Homo sapiens: one gene and its partner. The protein of the gene in region 2 interacts with the protein of the main gene of each other region in a pairwise test. Each region holds a gene or a part of one and is shown on either strand. Other genes may lie near its edges.

Region 1 (3,020 bases), on a different chromosome or scaffold from region 2:
TGCTTACTGTACATCTCCCAGATCAGTGGGGTAACTTGTATTATGTTGTGCTGTGTTATTTATCCTTCCACGAATTGCTGCAAAAGCTGTGTTCTGGGTCATCCCCACAACTGCTGTGAACAAGGGCATGCCTTGCGAGGTGGCATGGGTTAAGGACCAAGGCTTAGGACCCCACAGGGCAGAGAGGCAAACTAGGCTTATATTAGTATTAAACCTGTGACTTGAGACTGCATCATATTGCTTCATTCTTAAAGACTTGAAGGATTTCCATCTTTTCTACAAGTTAATCTTAGGCAGTATCATAGCTCTTTTTTGTATATGATCAAATCACTTAATCTAATTATGCCCCATTTTTTTCTTGTGATTTGAAAGCATCATGAAAACTTTTATATATGCAGGTTTATCTGTTACTACTATGAAGAATCAAAAAATTCCAAAGCCTTCTAGTTCAGAAAACGTTAGGCCAGATTCTGTAATCACCTATGTTAAAGAACAAAGCTAAACAGCTAAATCAGGAAGTAGATAATAAAAGACAGATCACATTTAGACAAAGACATGGTTACTTTTTTATTTGAAGAAAAAAAAAGTATGTTTTAATAAATACTGCGGAAACATTGACCAAACAAACATACACAGTGACTTCAACAGTTTAAAAAATGCAACAAAAGTTCTGCTTTATAACAGTTATAACTTATTTTCTTTTTACAATATTTAAATACAGAAAGCACTCGCCAGCTATTTTGTAATACTGCCCAAAGCATAATGCTGCATCAATCAAAGCATATTATGTTGGTAAAATGTCTGTATTTTATGGGAAATGACTGGAATCGAATTTTCTTGCAGAGACAAGACAAAGTGCTTGTAAGACATAGAACTGAGTGTTGTAATTACCTTAATCTCTCCTGCCACGATTTAAGGGGAGCACAGCTTCAACACTTCAAAAACGAAGCACTATCATGGGAAAGAAAGCTCGTTTTCAACAAGCGCCAACAATAAACAGGTCAGATCTGGTTTCTTCTCTGAAAGAATCTCTAAAAGGAACTGGTCAAAAATATCTGTAAACTATTTTAAATGCTTATTATTTTACGTAACAACAGAGACCAAGTGCTGAACACAGACCTTGGCTGCATCTGTTCAGTGAGGTTTTAGCAATGACACTCTAGAAATGCCCTAGTGTTATGTCAGGACTGAAAGTTTATCATATAATCTTCCACTAGGGATTCTCTAAAGCTTGGGTAAGTGGCATCTTCTCTCATCAATGTTCATTTAATGAAAAGTGAAATAAACCAACAGATTATCAGATGCTGTCAGTTTTGGAGCTTCAACCCAAAATAATAGTCCTTTTGCTTTGTATTTTTGGTAACTTAATTCCAGACAGCTTTACTCACAAACTGTGCTTTCTGCTACTATTCTTTCCTTCACTCATTACCTTTTCTGGTGAAAACAGTAACTACCTTTTTTCTCTCCTTGGATCATTCTATGACATCAAACCAAGACACCTTTTATTTGACTTTGCATTTTTATCAACGATGGCAAAAAATCACACAACTTCTAAACAGCGCACAAAAATATTACATTGAGCAATTTACCACTTTTTAATGACAATCACAATGAAGAACAGAACCATCAGACTGAATAAAAATCGACATTTTTTTTCCTATTTGATCTATGCGATCTTTGTAGTGCTGGTCTACAAATCTTGCAAGATTGCAAAGGCTTTCCTTAGAACCATCCTACTCAGCTATCTTCAGGAAGGCAAGATTTCAAAGCCTCATAAAGTTTGCCTCTGGATATATCCCATGGGTCCTGATACAATTTCCTTTTTAATGATGAGCTAGAAAGAAATTAGATCACATCCTCTAGAAAACTAAATGCTAAGGTCACAGTGCCAGTTCCCCCTTGAGGACGGTATATTAACGTATACTTTTTGTAAAGGAGATTAAAACATTTAAAAATTAAATCAAAGTGGAGATCCATGAATAGATTATAACAAAAAAAAAAAACCCAAAAATGCAAGCACCATTCAGAGTGTGATTTTTCTTCTTGGAGGTACTCGCATCCCCCCTCATCTTCCTCTAGCTCATTTGTATCTCTCATTTTTTGGCATATTTTTCAAGTCACACTTAAAAACTCTTCCATGTATTCACTTCTCATCACTTGGTCTACATGCCGAACCTAAGGTCAGGATTCCAAAAAGATGAGTATCCTCTCAAACGCCTCCTAAGCCTCTGGTATACATGACTTTGGCTGTGCACTTCATTTAGACTTCACCTTTTTGTTTGCTGTTGTTTTTTACACTAGATTCCTTTGTCTTCATTAAAGATAATGAAAGATTCACATCACAGTGCAGCTCTTCGCTTTGTCCTTTCGTAAGTCCGTAGCAACTGCCGAGAGTTCTGGTCTGCTAGGCATGTGTGAAATCCGCTTTGTGGCTCTCTGTGATTTGTTCCGCTTAACGTTTTTATTTGTCTTATTTACACATGCCAAGGTGGCAACGTGAAAAATGTCTCTGACGCTATTTTCCGACTGTAAAGCTGAGCATTCGATATAAGTAGCTGCTCCAATCTGTTTGGCCATATTTGCCCCCTGAGAAGCAAAAGAAGGGATTTTAACCAGCAATAAGACTTTGGGGGAAAGTTAGCTAGCATCTTCTAATACCACAAAATAATAACACATTGCAAAACGTTTGCTGATATGTTAACTGAATTTTCCAAGTGTCATTGCAAAAAAAAAAAGTTGTTAAAATGTAAACTGCCTTATTTATTACTTCATAACTATTTGCAGTCCAGAGCCCATCCCTAAGATGCCCAACTCTCATGGCTCATTAGAGGTGTTAGAGCTCTGAATAAATGCTAAAGGCTGATCTTAACAAAGGAAGACCCTGGTTATCAAACACTTAACATGAGGTGATTCAAAGAAGTGTAGAGTGGAGCTAACGAAGTGATTCATCTTCACTATCAACTGCAAGCAAGAGTTAACTGGTTATTCAGGTTTTCCAGGGTCACAGCAAGCATGGAATG
Region 2 (7,578 bases):
GCAGAAAGGAGCCCCCAGCCCCTGTACCAGGGCAGTGGGGTGGGCCTGGGCAGGCTCCTGCATTCCCACCTCCTCTCCACAGCAGGGAGCTGAAACAGCTCAGGGGCAGGCCCAAGAAGTCCTGGCCCCCAACTCCCTGGGGAGGGAGCCCCTCCCCAGCCCAGCCCCAGCTCCAGGCTTGTGAGTCAGGGCCGGCTTGTTGAAACTGATACCCAGAAACCAGATGCGGAGGCTGATGAATAATGGAGTCTCCAAGGCAGGACCCCCGCACCCGGCTGTTCTCCCTCAGTATCACCTCCCCCAGCCCCAGAAAAGCAGATGGGAAACCAGGGATCCCCCAGGCATCCCTGCCCCACAACGAGCTGGGGCCCCAGCCTGGTCTGGGTGGGAGAGGGACTTCCCTGTCCAGGAAAGGACGCAGGTCTGGGGCCAGCTCCAGGCTCTGCCGACAGCAGACGGGCCTGGAACCAGGAGTCCGAGCTCTCTGGCTGGAGGGATGTCCTTGCCAGGAATTCCCACCAAGGCTAAGCTCCCCTGGGAGCCTGCTAGTCCCAAGGCCCCACCCAACACCTTAGAAATCCAGGGGTGGAGACTGCATGCATGGGCAGGCCAGCCAGGGCGGGGTGGCTTTGCCAGGCGGCTCTCTACGCTCCACCCGGCCTACCCACCCTCCTTTCCCCTAGGCCCAGGCCTCACCCATCACCCCTTGGGTTCTGAGGCTCACCTGGAGTCAGAGCCTGACCTAAGGCCCTGCCCTGTGCCGGGCAGATGGCAGGGACACAGAAAACCTCTCCCCAGGCTAAGCCCACCGCACGGGCCCTGGAAGCCAGGAAGGCCCCTTCCTCCCCAGGGAGCGGTCCTGGCTAGTATGCCCAAGGCTGGGACCCAGTGCTAGAGAAAGAGGGAGGGGCTGCAGTCTGTGAACATCCCCTCCTGCCCAGCCTCTGCAGTTCCCAGCCCCAGACCCCAGCGTGTGTCTTCGGAGCACCTGGACTAGCAAGCCCTTCCCCGGTGCAACTTAGAAGCCTCCTTGGTAGGGAGCGGGGGAAAGAGGGCACCTGCCTGGGCTTCAGAAGACCTGGTCTGGAGCCTACGTTCCCCCACCCTTCCCCTACTGGGCCTCAATTTGCCCACCTGTGCCAAGAGGGCATAGAATTCAGTATCTGGGGATGGCTGCCAGGTCCTAGTGTGTGCCCGGACCCCGGCTAAAGGGCAGGAGAATGGTAAAATACCCCCGAGCTCCCTCAACTTGAGGAGTTACTAAGGAATCTGCAGGGGACCTCTTGGCCTCCATTTCCCAGACTTCCACCAAGGCAGGCCAGGGCCTCCCCGGATTCACGGGTCTCCCGCATCCCCCACCCCTAAGTGGGTGCCTGGGTCTGCTCAGACTGCCCGAGGCGCAGCCTCTGGCGCCCCCTGCCGGCCTCGAGAGGGCTTTTCCGCCTGGGACCGACTCCGGGACTGGCCAGATGGGGAGGATCGGCTGAGCCTCCCAGCCACGCCGCGCGCCCGGGCCCCTCCAGGATCCCCCTGCCCCGCCAATACCCCCCATACCGGGGCCAGGGTCCCATAGACTCCTCACGGCCCTATCTCCGAGCCGACCCACCCTAGAGACACTGTGATGGGGGCGGGAGCTTGAACCCATTCCACCCTCACGTAAATGGAGATACAGCTGGTGAGGACCCTGTACCCACCCACAGGCCTGGCACTACGTGGGAATCTCGAATCCGGGTTCTGTCCATCGGTTTAGGGGGGTCCTGGCGCCTAGTCCCACCCCCCGTCCGGAGCGCAGCTCCCACTTCCCCGCGACTCACCTAGGAACAGGACCAGGGTCTCCTCCCCGGTGTCTAAGGCTCTAAGGCTCGGGCCGAGACTGCCAAAGCCTCATGGGGCGCGCGGGGAGAGGGGGACGGGAGCCGCGGGACGGGCTCAGTCGACTCAGCGCAAACTGGGGCGCGGGACGTAGGGGAATTACGGTAGCCGCGCGGGCGCTACCACCTGGACCGGCCGGGATGTACCAACGGCGCCGCCCGGCTGGGACCGGGGAGAGGAGGGGTCCCAGGAAGGGCCCCGCGCCGGAGCCAGGGAGGTGGCTGGAGGCCGGGCGGTGGCTTGGGGTAATCCAGGATCCGGGCTCAGGGGAGGGGGTGGGGGGCGTCACTGTCCCCGAGGGGCCAGCCCTTTGCAGATCTCCAAAAAGTTCAAAGTCCCTGGTCATTAACTTGGGCTTGAAGACGGGAGCTCGCCCATCCCGGAAGGGGGCTAGGGGGGACCAGGGCCCGCGACAGGAAGCCTCCGCGCGACAGAAAAGCCCCGGGGGACCAGGCAGAGAGACCCGCAGGCCTAGCCCGCCCCGGAATCGCCCTGAGCCAGGTTCGCTTCCGCTCTATTGTAAAAAGCTGGATTCTGATCTGCGGCCTCCGCGGTGCCCCAGAAACAGCCCGCTTTTCTCTGGGCCCCCTCTTTTTTTTTTTTCTGGCCCAGGTGATATGGCCGGAAAAGGGTGCTGTTCTGCCATTTAGTGGTTCCCAGTTCCCCTCTCCCAGCAGCGGGAGTTTAGAATAACTCTGGGCTCAGGACTGGGAAGGGTGTGGATACAGGGGGCCCACTCGAGGAGGTGGAGTTCAGGTCCACCAACCTGTTCCGCACTTTCAAGCTTTTTATACAGCCTTCCCCCGACCCCTTCCCAGGCCAAAACCTCCAGACTGCCCCACACAACCCTTGGGGCTGGGCCTATACTAGGGCAGCTCCTGGCTGGGCCAGGGATCCCCACGTCTTCACCTGCTCCCCCAAAACTACTTAGCCAAAACCCAGGAGTCCCCTTGCATTGTTTCTCTGGCCCTGCCCGTTTCTTCAGCTGCAGATAGCCCCACCACCTCTCTCCGGGGACCAGTCACTTCCAGAGATGGCCCAAACCTGGCCATTCCCTGGGGCATCCTGGTCTGCCGCTGCTCACCCCCAAAGCATTGCCCAGGAGAATAGGTGATTGCCTCTCCCATTACTCACATCCTGCCCGTCCCTTCTCCATGGGGGCCTCAGGTCCACCCTTTCCTCTCCCTGGTCTTCATCTCACCACCCCTCCCTCCACACACGCATACCCTGACTCATCCCTGCCACCTCACAGGCCATTGTTAAGCTGCAAGGGAACTCTGAAGTCCTCCCATCCAACCTCCACTCCACACTGCAATCCCCTCTACGCTTCCCTTTCTGTCTCTTCTTGCATATGTCTAGTGATGGGGTGCTCACTACCTCCACTTCGGGGATAGCTCCAGCTGCTGGAAACTCTTTCCTGTAGTGTGCTGAACCCCACCTCCCTGTCAAGGCCTTTGGGAGCTGTGCAGAAAAATTCACCTCCCTTTCCTCCTGAGAGTTCTGAGGAAATGGGAGGCTCTGACAGAGAGGCCTGGTTTGAGTCCTGATCTTGCCTTGCTTGGCAAGTCATTTTACCTCGCCACTCTGCAGGGCCCTCTCTAGGAAACGGAGATGGGGTAGGCCCCACCGCAGCGGGGGAGGCGGCCAGATGAGGTTTCTGTGCCAGGCGCTAAGGCAGGGCCTGGCATACAGTACGTGCTGGATCAATGGCGGCTGCTGGAATCACTACCTCCTCCATGATAAACACCCTCACATGTGGTGCCCAATGTCCCCTGTGGCCCAGGGCCACAAGTGTCCTCCTCCATGCCCCCTTGTGACCTGGGACGCCCTGACTAGACCTCGAACAGTGCCCAGTGGAGCCCAGCAAGGAGCTGGGGAGTCCACACACTGTCCCGTGGCCACCTCACAGGAGGGCAGGGGGAACCCACAATATCATTAGTCTGCCTTGATCTCCCGGCCTTTCTCCATCTCCCCAAACTCACAGCTCCACCTGTGTGCAAGAAGCTGGGATGGAGCCTGGGGAGGTCTCAGATCCCAGGGCAGGTACGGAGGGCACACCCAAAGTCTAGAGGTGACTTTGTTACCCCCACTCCCAGGACACCTTGCACACCTACGCTGTGCTAGGCTCTATGCTAAGCATGTTATATATGGGCCTCTTTTAATCCTCGCTGCCGGGTTATTTTCCAGATGAGGAACCTGGGGTTCAGAGAAGTGTAGTGACTTCCCCAGGGTCGCACAGCTGGAAAAAAGTAGGTTTGATCCTGGAGCTCAGAGGTGTGGACTGCTCTACATATCTTCATCCTGGGGAGGGGCCATTTCTCTCCTGGGGTCTCCATGACACACAGTCCAGACCCCTCATCTGGACATGCAGGTGCTCCTAGTGCAGCCTGCCTCCCCCTCCTCCCGTCCCCTTCTCCCTGTGCCCCCTGGCCTCGCTTGCCCCTTATAGCCCCCAATGTCCCCCCCTGCTCACTCAGCTGTCCTCCATCTCAGTACCTCTTTAATCCTCAGGACTCCAGTTGCCTCCAGGAAGCCCATCCTGGTTAGCCCTCCTCCCAGTGGGAACTCCAGGGGCAGGAGGTAGGGGACAGATGGCAAATTCATCTCAGAAGCTCCAGCACCCAGGAGAGCCTCAAATAAAACATCAAGGGTGGGCCCAGAAGCCGAAGGGTCCAGCCCTGCCTGAAATTGGTCCTTTGCCAGGGCAGCCTGGGGGGAAGTTTGGCCAGCCAGGGTCACTTCCCTTCCTTCCTCCCAGCACAGCTAGAATGTCACCTCCAGGAGGGCATCCCCTTTGTTCTCTGGAGATCTCCTGGGCCTAGAACTGGGCCTGGCACCGACAGATGCTCAGAGCTGGTCTGGTAAATGAATAAATGAAGTCATCTCCTTCAAAACGCTAGTCACATCCTGGAGAGTAAGAATAGGGCTCTTGATCAGACAAGCCTCACGCAGGCCAGGCTCTGACGATCATGCTGTGTGATGTGGGCAAGTTCCTCTACCTCTCTGGGCCTCCGTTTCCTTACAAGTCATGTGGTCATAAGAATAACGCTGTTCTCCTGAGGGTCTCAAGAAGCTTCACTGAGACAAGCAGGAGGGCCTAACGCCCCGCCTGGCATGTAAACATGTTCGGTCAGCAATAATTGTTATTATTATTATTATTGGGTGTTTTTTGAGACAGAGTCTCGCTCTGTTGCCCAGGCTGGAGTGCAATTGCGTGATCTCAGCTCACTGCAACCTCCTTCTCCAGGGTCCAAGCGATTCTTCTGCCTCAGCCTCCTAAGTAGCTGGGATTACAGGTGTGTGCCACCATGTCCGGCTAATTATTTTTTATATTTTTGGTAGAGATGGGGTTTCACCATGTTGCCCAGACTAGTCTCGAACTCCTGACCTCAAGTGATCTGCCCACCTTGGCCTCCCAAAGTGCTGGGATTACAGGCATGAGCCCCTGCGCCTGGCCTGTTATTTTTGAGACAGGGTCTTGCTCTGTTGCCCAGGCTGCAGTGCAGTGGCACAATCACGGCTCACTGCAGCCTCAATGTCCCAGGCTCAAATGATCCTCCCACCTCACCCTCCCCAGTAGCTGGAATTACAGGTACCCACCACCACACCTGGCTAATTTTTTTTTTTTTTTTTTTTTTTTTTTTTTAGACGGAGTCTTGCTCTTGTTGCCCAGGCTGGAGTGCAATGGCATGATCTCAGTTCACTGCAACCTCTGCCTCCCAGGTTCAGGCAATTCTCCTGCCTCAGCCTCCCGAGTAGCTGGAATTACAGGCACCCACCACCATGCCCAGCTAATTTTTATATTTATAGTAGAGATGGGGTTTCGCCATGTTGGCCAGGCTGGTCTCGAACTCCTGAGCTCAGGCAATCTGCCCGCCTTGGCCTCCCAAAGTGCTGGGGTTACAGGTGTGAGCCACCACGCCAGGCCTTTTTTTTAATTTTAGTAGAGAGAGGTCTCCCTATATTGCCCAGGTTGGCCTCAAACTCCTGGGCTAAAGCAGTCCTCCTGCCTCAGCCTCTCACAGTGCTGGGATCGCAGGTATGAGCAACCACACCCAGCCAGTAGTGGTTATTATTATCATCATCGACAATGTTATTCTTTGTTTCTCTTACCAAATCTGAGTGCCCCGCACCTCCTCTCCACCACTGCCTCTCCCTTCCTGGACTGCCCTTGCCTCTGTTCTGTCTATCCATGTTTTCACATCCATTAAAGGCCCCCTCCTCCAGGATGCCCTCCCTGACTGGCTCTCTATGCCTCTGATAATTCAGGCATTTCTGCCCCTACAGTGAGTCTGTGCCATTTGTCCCAAAGGGCGTCCCAGTAGTGACAGGGCCCAGACTCTCCCCGTGCACGCTGGGTGACCCTCATCAGCTGATGCCAATGTCAGCTGTGCCAAGTTCCAGGCAGGCCAGGGCTGGAGGTGAGGTCTGGAGGCTGCAGAGGGACCATACCCACTCTGAGACCAGCTCTCTTCTCCCAGGCCTCACCTCTATGAAGGCTGGGCCATCCCACCCCTGCCCCTGCCTGAGCAGCTTGAGGACCCCCCCTGAGAGCAGCTGCCCAGAGGAGGGGCTGGGACAGTGTGCCTTATTGCCCCAGCCGCCCCTTCAGGTCAGGCAAAAGCCTCGGGGCTCCGCAGGCCTCTGGCAGGATGTATATTGGGGGGAGCTGAGGCCAATTTGTTGCCAGGAGCCCCCATCTGGGAAAGAGGCAACCAGCCAACACCAGAGCCCAATGCCAGGCACCATCCGTGCCAGCAGATTGTATCTGACATCACACCGCCCCCCTGCCTGGTGACCACGGCAACTGGAGGCCGCCCCCTCCCCGCCCCGCCCCATAGCAGTTCTCCCTGTTCCCTCACCACGGCCCTCCTGTGCAGAACGAGTGTGTGTGTGTCTGGGTGGAGGTGCGGGAGGGGAGCGGGGGGTGGGGGGTGGCATTTTACATTTCCTGCAGCTGGCAGTGCTGAGACACATGATGGAAGACAACACGGGCCCTGGTATGACACAGACCTGGGTACTGGGTTCAAATCCCAGCTCTCCCACTTCCTAGCAGTCTGTCCCTGAGTGAGCCTCAGTTTCCCCATCTGTAAATGAGAATAAGGACAGGACCATCTCAGAAGGCCGGAGGAGGAGTCAGTGAGTCCTGGTGCCTGCGCCAGATGCTAAGTTGCGCAGTTGTCACTATTGTCATGTAAATGCATGCTGGGAGGGGCAAAACCTGGCTCCAAACCCCGGCTCCATCTCTCATGAGCTGTGGGCCTTGGCCAAGTCACTGGACCTCTCTGAACCTTGGTGTCTTCATCTGGAAAACGGGGTGACGATGCCTTCCCTGCAGAGCTGCCGCAATCAGTGCATATGGCACAGAAAGCGGGTGGCACTAAGCCCAGCACATCACAGGCAGAAGCGCCCAGCCAGTACTATTATCCTCCTTCCTGCCCCCTTTATCCCTGATTTATACTTCGCCCCACTCCCAGCTCCCAAGCCCTGGCACTCCAGGATCAACTGGCCCCTTCCTCCTTTTGTCATCCCCAGGGCCATGGTCACACTCGCCAAGTCCCAAAGCATCTCAGACCCATGCCCAGGCCTGAAGAGTGGCTGAGTTCAACAGGAAGGGTGCCATCTGGGCACTGGACCAGCACCGTGGGAGACCACTTCCCCTGGCTAAGCCTCAGTTTCCTCATCCGTGACATAAGGCTACAGCTC

Evidence for each region.
Region 1: the proteins of PLEKHG5 (region 2) and RND3 interact in binary tests that used the Homo sapiens proteins (3 or more experiments, as listed by UniProt).

Annotation. Positions count from the first base shown.
Region 1 is NC_000002.12:150,467,653-150,470,672, forward strand, and holds the end of RND3 (rho-related GTP-binding protein RhoE precursor), read right to left. Parts: intron 2,587-3,020; coding exon 2,335-2,586; 3' UTR 543-2,334; downstream 1-542. UniProt on the Homo sapiens protein: Binds GTP but lacks intrinsic GTPase activity and is resistant to Rho-specific GTPase-activating proteins.
Region 2 is NC_000001.11:6,488,631-6,496,208, forward strand, and holds the start of PLEKHG5 (pleckstrin homology domain-containing family G member 5), read right to left. Parts: upstream 3,038-7,578; 5' UTR 3,007-3,037; intron 1,951-3,006; exon of another isoform or gene 1,815-1,950; intron 1-1,814. UniProt on the Homo sapiens protein: Functions as a guanine exchange factor (GEF) for RAB26 and thus regulates autophagy of synaptic vesicles in axon terminal of motoneurons. Involved in the control of neuronal cell differentiation.